2 separate regions of the Homo sapiens genome follow, and region 1 is linked to region 2. Evidence: fine-mapped expression QTL. A gene starts in region 2. The other region holds a variant in brackets. All regions are shown on one strand. Distances are between the middles of the regions.

Region 1 (5,383 bases), 63 kb after region 2:
TGACAGCTAAAGTTGCCATTACAATGATGATTCGTATCCTTCATTTAAATATAGATGAACACCACAAAATGACAAATGTATCTTTATGTTAAAGGTGTGTCCATTATGATGCAATAATTGGCCCTTTTAGCATTTTCATTGCCACGAATCACACATTATGTAACTATTACTAAGCTAATCCCACTAAAGCCTATTAATGTCAGAAAGACTTGGGTGTTTCACTACTAAACTGTCTCTGAGGATGTTTTAACACTTGTTCTTAGGCTGCATTTAATATCTGCAATTATGGGGAAAGGATGCCATGAAAACTATCCTTAAATCCTTTTTTATTTATTTTGTTTTGAGATGGAGTCTCGCCCTGTTGCCCAGGCCGGAGTGCAATGTCACAATCTCGGCTCACTACAACCACCTCCACCTCCCAGGTTCAAATGATTCTCCTGCCTCAACCTCCCAAGTAGCTGGGATTACAGGCGCCCGCCACCACACCCAGCTAATTTTTGTATTTTGAGTAGAGACGGGGTTTTACCATGTTGGCCAGGCTGGGCTCGATCTCCTGACCTCATGACCCACCCACCTCGGCCTCCCAAAGTGCTGGGATTACAGGTGTGAACCATAGTGCCGGCCAAATCCATTTTTAACACAACCAAACAAAACATCAACTTGATTGAGAGCTCCAGGACATTGATTGAGAGCTGTTGCCATATGTTTTTAGGCTCCAGTATATCAAGGCTAAAGTGCTCACCATTGCTAGAGGACAAAAACACACAGCAGCTGCTCAGCAATGCCTAAGCCTGTGGCCCAAGTCGAAAAGAATTAGACCAAGTATTACAGTAATCAGGCCTCAAGCAAGCAAAAGCCTGGCTCAATACTAAGAACCCCCTACTAATGGGGAGAGCACACCTCCATACTCCGGTGCCTGGGGAAACATTTCCCAGGAGTGTGGTGGTGTTCTGCCTGCTGGGAGATAGATACCATTAACCTCTCTTCTTACTATGTTTGAACTCCACTTGCACTCTTATCTCTGAATTTTGTCTTGTTTCCACTAAGTATTGCTTGCCCCTTCTTCTTCATACTCAAAAATATGGATGTAATATACCTGCCTCTAAGGCCCCTTTGAAAGTTCATCTTCACCCCCAAGTTAAACAGAAAACCCTCATGCATGTGTGCAGTCTGATTTCATCTTATGTGGCGCTCCTCCTACTGACAAAATATGTTCTCACTCTGAGAAGTTTCCCTGTGCCGCTTTAGTAATAAACAAATCCACCTGTGTTTGCATCCTAGGCGTTCTCAGTGTACCACACTTGAGCTCTGCCTCCCCGGTTAGGCATCTGCTCTGGAAGCACGAGGAATATTGCTTTCAGTCCTCTTATATTCCTGATACCCTTGACTTTGCAAGGCCTAGCAATACGCGGCACTTACTATAAATTAAATAAATAAAAATCCATTTAAGTCAATCAAACCAACAGCTCTCTGTTTCTCCTGTGAAATGGAGAGGCAGATGAGTAGCCCAGCATTCTGCATGGTTCCCCTGATGCACTCTCCCTGCCCACTGAAGCAGCCCTGCAGTTCCACCCAGTCATTCCCTGCTTCTCTGCACCATAGTGACGGGTCCACCTAGAAGGAAACTCCCTTTAAAAGTTGCTCCATTAAACTGATAAGAACAGATACTACACTTGATTTTAGCCAAGAGGATATGGAGAAATAGGAATGCTTTTACACTGTTGGTGGGAGTGTAAATTAGTTTAACCATTGTGGAAGACAGTGTGGCGATTCTTCAAGGATCTAGAACCAGAAATACTATTTGACTCAGCAATCCCATTACTGGATATATACCCAAAGGATTACAAATCATTCTACTATAAAGACACATGCACATGTATGTTTACTGCGGCACTATTCACAATAGCAAAGACTTGGAACCAACCCAAATGCCCATCGATGATAGACTGGATAAAGAAAATATGGCACATATATATCATGGAATACTAAGCAGCCATAAAAAAAGGATGAGTTCATGTCCTTTGCAGGGACATGGATGAAGCTGGAACCATCATCCTCAGCAAACTAACAGAACAGAAAACCAGAAACTGCATGTTCTCACTCATAAGTAGGAGTTGAACAATGAGAACATATGGACACAGGGAGGGGAACATCACACACCAGGGTGAGGGGCTAGCGGAGGGACAGCATTAGGAGAAATACCTAATGTAGATGATGGGTTGATGGGTGCAGCAAACCTCCATGGCTCGTGTATACCTATGTAACAAACCTGCATGTTCTGCACATGCACCCCAGAACTTAAAGTATAAAATAAAATAATTATAAATTTTTTTAAAAAGTTGCTTCATTCTGGGGACAAGAGACCACCAAGCTGTTGCATGTTAGAACAGACCTACTGGGAGGCAGTAGAGGGCACTGTGGACTCATGCCCATGACACCCCCAATAAGCACACCTATGGCAAAGAGGAAGTGCCTAAGTCCACAGGTCTCGAGTTTGTAGTGCGCATACCTCCTGCCCAAGTCTATTGCTGCTGTTGCTTAGCCCTTTCAATATTCTTTTCTTACATTTTGTTTTTCTTAACTGTATCAAAGCTTGTGAAAAATTCATATCAGTTATTTCAATTTTTCTGAAAGATTCAGTAAATCAGATATTGTTTTAAAACAATCATCACCAAAGCCACGTGGCTTAGTGAGGATTGTTTTAAAACAGTCAATGAGGAAGTTAGGAAATAATTCTTCATCTCCAGACTTAATTGACTAAGTCCCAAAGATTATT[A/G]CCCTATATTATCTCTTAAATCACACCCCCTCTTACTTAGGACAGGAACATACCCCTGAACAACAGTGCTCAGCTGAGGGGGTGAACAAGGCTAAAACCCAGCCAATCACTGCTGGCAAGGCCTTGAGCCCTGGCTCCAGGCTGCACCTGCCTTAGGAAGGGGCGTCTCTCTACGACACTGAATGGCCTCCTGTGGATCACCACAGACCTGCTTTAACCACCTTAACTGCAACCACCTTGTTCTTGGCCCTTATTTATACGTTGACCACTATGACCATCTCCTAACACTCCTAGAGGTAACTTAAACTGCATACACACACATATATTCATAACTGAACAAGCTTTATGCATATTTACAAATTAAATGTGCCATCACTGAAATTCAAATTAAAAGCATTAATCAAATGTGACCAACATACTGTTTGACTAAAATTGAACCTCTTCTGCTCCAGGGAGGATAAGGAGCTGACAGCTATGTTACAAGATCTATCTAGTTTTGTACTATATAGACCATGTGTTATGCAATGACTCAATATCCAATCAATGTTTTCTCTGATAAAGTCCTTCCAAACTGTCTGTTGGCATCATTTGGCCATTATGAAGTTTATGTTTGTTTTAGTCTCATTATGTGGAAACAGTTAAAGCAGTCCTACTGGAACCCAAATAATCTTATGTTCAAATGTCTACTTGGACTTAAATCTCATTTTAGTACACAGGCAATAAAATAATGATCCCGATAATCCAGATCCAGATAATCCAGAAGGTGCTTATTGTAGTTAAACATAAACAAAAGTAAGCTAATTGCTAAATTTAGAGCCCAAAAGGGCCAGACCACCATCATACCTGAATTTATAGATCAAAAGAAACCAAGTTGAAATCCAACTCTTTCCTTACAGGTTTTAATATTAGATGGCTACAGGAGGACTCAGGCTTAGAAAACACCACTTCTCATGCTTATGGTATTAAGCCCTCCTTTCAGTAAATAAGGAAGGGGATATATCCTCCATGAGAAACTTAAATAAATATAGCTGTTCTTCCACTGACCTATATTTCCTATCAGAGAACACCAAATACTATGTAAATAGAAAATAACTCTACTGTTGAGATAATCTATAAGAGGGTCAGCAAACCATAGCTTTAGGGCCAAATCCAGTTCTTGCCTTGTTTTTGTACTTCCTGAAAGCTAAGAATTTTTACATTATTAAAGGATTATTAAAAATGAATTTATAATGGAGACAGTATGATAGGTCACAAAGTCTAAAATTTTCTACCCTGTCTATGTAAAGTTTTCCAACCACTGAACTAGATAATACCCTAATAAAGAATATTACCAATGAAAACTACATAGAGCTATTCATCATTTCTATGTAAATTCACTGTCAAAAAATGATCATCAGAAATAAGATGGACATATTTTACCATCCATGAACTTTTATTTCTTGGACTTCTATGTAATAAGGGTTCATCAGTGAATGTCCATGTAGAACATTTTTTGTCCAGTCAAGTCTAATGTGTTTAAACTGGCCAGTATTTGATAAGACTAACATCTTTATCACAGCCTCCATCCTGAACTGCTTGCCTTCATCCAACTCAAGCCCCATTACCTAACGTTTTCCTGAATGTTAGTCCTCCTGAGAGCTCAATTTGCCCTCTTTGGGCAGCATTGCCTTGATCACAAATCTGCTGCTCAAGACCCCTTTTCTGGCTCTGATCTCAATTTCCATTTGCAATCACTCATTTGATTATGCTCTTCAGAACAAACCAGGATTGTCTCACTAAGTCTAGCCCGTTCTTACAAGACAGTTCTTACTGTACTTACTGTACAATGCAGCTGATGAATGCCCATACTGGGATGAAGCCAGGCATACTGTCACCCAGTGACTTGGAAATTTAATACTCAACTGATGATGCCAGGATAGGAAGCCAGCCAAACTGGCTCAGTCAAAACAAAAATCTTCTTTCCTTTCTTTTGATTTTTGCTCCAAAATGGCTAATTCATTTGATGGGGAACTTGAGTTTTCTTTATAGAGTGAAATTGAGAAAGATAATAATTAATTTTGAAAATATATACAGAAACATTGGAGCTCTAAGGCAGTCTGAGGCAATGCCTTTTAACTAGGAGCCAGAGATCCCTATGACAATGCTTCTCAGTGTTTGGTCCAGCTCACTTAAACCAGAATTCTCTTGAGTGCTTATTAAAAATTTGGAATCCTGGGACTAACTCTCTAATATCTGATGAATCAGAATTTTTGAGAATGGAGTCCCACTATTATTGTGGTTGATAAAACTTCTGGACCAAGACTTAAGAGGCCAACATATGGTCTTTAGGGGATTTTCTTATCCACTGAAATTATTTGCAAAAATACATGATGGTTGATGGTTCGAAGTGCATTTTTCTAAAATGACCCTATTCATCTTCATCAAATTATCAAAGCAATCTATAGTTTGAAATAAGAATCACTTGTTTTAAAGGAAAATAAAATTGAATCAAAATACAAAGCTTAAATTTCTCTGAGCACCATTTCCTGCATGACTGGTAAGTCTTGCCTTCTCTGGGAAGCCATTCTTCCTTCTTGCCCATGTGCCATACAGCTCTTCATACATACC
Region 2 (5,383 bases):
AAAATTAAAAAAAATAGATAATATATCAAGTTTGGACTGCAAACCAGAGCTTTCAGCAGAACATAGTTGAGTCTTTGCCATAGACACCAACTCATTTCCTTCCTTTCTGTGGCATTCATTCCACTATCATGCATTTTTTCCCAAATGAGATGACAAAATGGAAAGACCATTTCTACACCAAGCATTGAGCCATAGGAAAGCGGAATGTCAGTCAGGGCATCTGCAGATCAGGAAATCATGTCACAGAAAACAGGACCTGTATAAGATCTAAGTTTATGCCATTTGCTGATCAGTTACCATATTTCAAAAATTATACACACTGTAATCCCCTCTCTCTGTTCTGCGGGCCCTTTGAAGAAGAAGGCATTTTTAGCAAATGTCCTTTAAATGGAGAAAAGAGGCAGATCAATTTACTCCAAACTACTTCAGATTAGATCTTAGTCAGAATGCCTCCCCAGAGTGGAAGCTCTTCTCCAGAAGTACCTTTCCTGTTGGATTCAGGTTCAGGGTTGGAACCCACAGACCCAGAATGATAGGCTATCAGCAAAGAAAAGCATGTCATTAGCATCCAGCAGCCCTCAGTTTGTCCTTGTCTCCTTCATCTTCCTTCAAACTTCTATTTTTCTCTTAGATTTCCCTGAAACTCTTTTAAAAATTCCTTTTGAAACAAGTGGGTGCCTGACTCATTGCCTATTTCCTCTGTTTTCCACCCAAGTGGTAAACAATGGGCTCTATTCAAATATGGACCGTCTGTGAGCTGGGAACCTGCGTGCAGACAAAGCTCCTTGTCCCAGGGCAGACTGCCAGACCCATGCTCTCCTCCACTCACCTCCTAGGCTGTTTAATAAGGGCCACTTGGCAAAAGGCAACATATTGTCATGGTCCTGTGACCTTGTAGTTCTCTGTCTCTTTTCCCTTCAGCCCGAAAGAATATTTCTCTAAATTCTCAAGTCAACGCATTTGAGAACAGCCTTTCAAAAGATACTTGTAGGAATAACAGAAGGTAGTTCAGGACCCAGTCAAAAGGACTATCTGGCTTTATTTACAATAATTTTAATGCCTCTGTCCTAACTCCTCCAAAGTTATTAATATTTTGTCTGTAGATGGTGGTTGCCAGGAAAGAGAATCTTGCAAAGTCAAGGGCATGACAAAGCTGAGAAATAGAGAAGGCTAGCCTAAGACTTTGGGAAGAGAAAGGTGAAGGAAAAAAATAGTAGGAATCAGACTATGGAACAAGAAGAACGGGACAAAGTTTCAAGTCCAAAGTGAGCAGGTAAGACAAAAATAACTGAACTTAAATGACAGAGTAGTCTTCAGGGAAAAAAAGAGAGAGAGAGAAGAGACTAGAGAACACATTTGCTTCAAGTGCTTGAGGAAAGCACACCTCCAGTGTGTAGAGGAATCACAGGAGGAGATTTTGCATATGGTGTCCAAACTCCCTTCCCAAGAATTTATGTTTCCTGAAGAACACTGCCAACTTCCCCCCTCCATCTTAAAATGGTAAGAAAGAGAGTTAAAGAGAAGGTAAGGGAAACAAATAAATAATTACGATAATCCAGTTATATTAGATATGTGTGCATTTTAAAATAACTTCAACAACCATATGAAATTGTGGCTCTTGTTCCTGTTTTTTTTACAGATGAGAAAATTGTAGCTTATGGAGTTTAAATAATTTGCTCACAGTCACAGAATTAGCGCTAGAATTTAAAATCAAGTGGTATGACTAAAAAACCATGAGAAAATTCATTCCTTCTTTTACAAAACAAGTCACTCTCTACTGACAATCAAACCCAAGTCCTCTAGATTCTCCATAATATTATTTACATCTATCCTCTTCTATCCAGCCCTACTGTCCCTCCCTCATAGCTTACTAAGTTTTCCCCAAAAGCCTCCTGACCTCCCTTCTCTGTGTCCCCCCATTCTTTTCCTTTCTTCTTTCCTTTTCCTTCCTCTCTCAACATGTATCTCATCAATTCCAACCTGCTTAAAACCCTTCAGTGACTTCCCACTGACCTAAGATTAAGTCATTGCTCTCAAATATGGCACTGCTTACCCATTGTTCTGCATATTATATTCTCTCTCCATCACTTTCTATGTTCCAACCACATTGGACTTCTTTAATATCCTCAAAACTACAAGTCGTATACCAGGGAAGGGCTTTTACACAGGCTGTTTATTCACTGTGGAACACTCCCTCCTCCTCTTCTCTTAGCTCAGCCATTCGCAAACTTTTGGGGCTCGGCCCCTTTGTGCTCTCAAATCTTCTGAAGAACCCCAAAGACCTTTTCATTTTAAAAAAGGTAGATTATATCATTATATCATGTTGCAAATTAGAACCAATTCTTTTTTAAATATTTAATTCATTTTAAAACAACATAGTAAACTGATTATACCTTAACATAAATAACATTTTATGAAAACATAGCCACGTTTTCCAAAACCAAAAATACATGAGTGAGACTAGTAGTGCTGTTATGCATTTTTTGCAAATCTTACCAATATCTGGCTTACTAAAGGATAAATGGATTCTCATGTCTGCTTCTGCATTCAATCTGTTGTGAAATCTATGTTATGCAGCTTCTGTAAAACTCCATTGTACACTTGTAATGCAATAAGAATGAAAAGGCAAATGACTTCTTAGTATTATAGGAAAACAGTCTTAACTCCTCCCTAAAAGTGTCTTAGGCAGAGACATCCAGGAAACCCAAGGTATACATTAGGAACTCTTAATTATCCTTAATATCTTGTCTTAAAGTTAAAATTTGCAAAGATGTCTTTCCTGACCTCAAAGAATAGGTCTGAGTCCTCTTGTTATATGTTTCTATAACATTCTTACCTCTCTGTCAAAACACTCACCGTACCTATAATTTATTCAATAATTTGCATAAGGACAGGGACCATACCAACTTTGTTCATAGTGAGTCTCCAGTGCTCAGCACACAGCAAGGACTCAGAAAATCTTTGTGGGAGGAAGCAGGAAATAGAAGGGGGAGAGCAAGGAAGTAAGGCCTCAGACTCAATGACACAGCTCCCTGACAATCGCTCCATTCCTTCAGCAGGATGTACACAGAGATATAACTTTCTACAGCATCCACTGCAGCTCTGGGCTCCATTTCCCTTTGAAATGGGATGGGAGAAAGGGGCAGGTAACAGACTGGAGTGAGGAGACTGAGGAGAAACTGTAGAGAATAATACTTAGGAGTACACGTGCTGGATTCTCTCATTAAGGTAATCATTCAATATTTACTAAGCAGCTACAATTTGCCAGGCATTCTTCTGGGCACTTGGGACACATCAGTGAACAAAATAGAGAAAAGTTTCTGGCCTCAAGCGATTTACAGGCAGACCTGAACTCAACCACACATCCCTCCACTTGAGTTGGCCTGGATTGTTTGTTTAATCTTCTTGTGCCTTATTTCTCTCATCAGTAAAATGTGAACAAGCCTTGAGAGTTTCCAGGTGAGAACTAAATGAAAGAATATCTTTAATGTACCCAATAGAATCAGGCACCTGGTAGGTGCCTAATAAATGGAAATCTTTCTGCTGGCAACTCTTATTCCAAAATTGATTTTTTTTTCATGTACAGAAACTATTCGATAGATTAGAATCCAGTCACTCACAGGATATCACTTGGGTAGTTGTCGGGGAGGGGGAGTGGTGTATTTAGGGTCTTCTCAGGATTCGGGGGGCTGGCTGCAGTGTCATTTTCCTATAGAGAAGCATCACCTCTGGCTTCCTCTCTTCTTCACAAGCCACCTGGATATGTTTACATTGAACTATGCAAGGTACTATTGTAGTCTTAAGCTATGCAGTATTTCAAAACAGACTTTCCTGAGGACTCTTACAAAAATAATTATGCCACGAGTGTCAGACTATTTGAAAGAAGATATTCATAGCCAACTGTTTGTAAGGGACCACCTCCTTACATGGGTTTATTGTGTATCATAGGGTTGCTGGGGTTTTCCAACTTCACCCTCTGAGTGTGGGTTGGCCTTTCTGAGAAAGCTACACTGCCTTTGAAGTAGGACTACCAGGAGAGAGGGGGGAAAAAAAAGTGTAGGGCTCTTTGACTTTTCATTTCCCTTTCTATCTACTTACTCTTTGTGCCTTCTCCAGTTAGTACCACACTAGAGAAGTGTTAGGTAGAGGAAGAGGAAGAAAGAAAAAAGGACAATCTTATCAGTTGATTTTGCTATGTGTTACCAGTCTGGTAAAAACATTTGAAGTTAGAAAGTATTCAAACATGAATAAAGTTTGGGAATTACTTGTATGGATTTAATTTCCTCAGAATACCCTCATTGTTCCTTCGCAGGAAATATTCATGAGTCAACTATCCAGAATCATAGTTATTATTCAAGCGGTGTGGGTTTAAAAGGAGATTTGATGCCATGGCAAACCTCACTGACTTAGACTGTTCTTCAAGTTAAAGAGCAGGATGATGTCTGAAGTGGCTGAAACACATATGGCTTCAGTGTGTCAAGAAGACCTGAAAGATCCCACATGGAAGTGAAATTCATTACTGGCAAGCACGGTGGCAGGAGACCCCAGAGGGCTGAGCCGCAAAGAATTTGCAGAGCCTTATGGCTAACTCCATGGCCTAGTTTGATCTTGAAGTTACTGTCTTGGATAATCCTCTCAAATCTGTTCCTGCACTTAAGAGCCACTCATCACATGACGGAGCTCCCTCTCAGGTTCCTTTACATCGCCCTGTCAGAAATGACTTTCAGGGAACAGACATCACATCAAATCATCCAACAGATGTCCCTTTCAAATAAGTTGGAGCAGAACCAACTATATGGAGAAGTCATAAACAAAGAAACAGACAACCCAGTGATTTCCAGCGGATTGACATTACTCTTTGCACAGAAACCTCAGTCTCCTGGGTGGAAGAACATGAGTTCAACAAAGCGTGTGTGCACTATATTGGCTGACTCTTGCCGTGCTCAGGCTCATGCTGCTGACAGGGGAGAGAGGGGACATTTTGGAGTCCAAATCTTGCATCATTTCATTGAAGTGTTCAATGTCATGGCTGTAAGAAGTAACCCATTTTAATAACTGGCATCAAAGGATTTAGGAGAGAGAAACCCAGTATCCAGACCCATTTCCGTCAGTGACACTCTCCTCGTATTGGGAGGATTGGCCAGAATCGTCTGATTCCTGTTTCTGATTTCCTTCCTCACTGGCATCAGAGTATTTCACTATAGGAAAACTAATATCTAACTGAGCTCCAAGTGCTAAATAACAGCATCTCATGTTCATTCCGGGTCACCAAGAGGTTCAGGGTGACCAAGTCACAAACTATAAATTTGAACATTTGATGATTTTTGCAGGAGACTGGGTGAACAAAGGAAAACCCGAGAGATACATAAAGGTGGAAACTAGG

Which allele goes with the higher level. Positions count from the first base shown, and alleles are read on the strand shown. Sizes are in standard deviations (SD) of each study's normalised expression.
For the expression in monocytes after Pam3CSK4 of the gene that starts at base 3,034 in region 2, G is the low allele of the variant in region 1 and A is the other (large effect, 1.1 SD a copy in Quach 2016).

The links. PIP is the estimated chance that this variant, and not a neighbour inherited with it, causes the effect.
Region 1: its variant is the best candidate, but not a certain one, in a credible set for the expression of LINC02915 in monocytes after Pam3CSK4 (Quach 2016, PIP 0.81).

What each region holds. Positions count from the first base shown.
Region 1 is chr15:39,310,749-39,316,131 of GRCh38, forward strand. All of the region lies in intron 1 of LOC105370777 (a long non-coding RNA gene), which reads right to left. Among named protein-coding and RNA genes, the nearest start is that of LINC02915, 63 kb to the left of the region's middle. The variant A/G (reference allele first, on the strand shown) is at 2,777.
Region 2 is chr15:39,247,636-39,253,018 of GRCh38, forward strand. LINC02915 (long intergenic non-protein coding RNA 2915) reads left to right here and starts at 3,034. Exons shown (of 2, transcript NR_144508.1): 1 at 3,034-3,228; 2 at 4,424-5,383. The region is part of intron 1 of LOC105370777 (a long non-coding RNA gene); the gene reads right to left.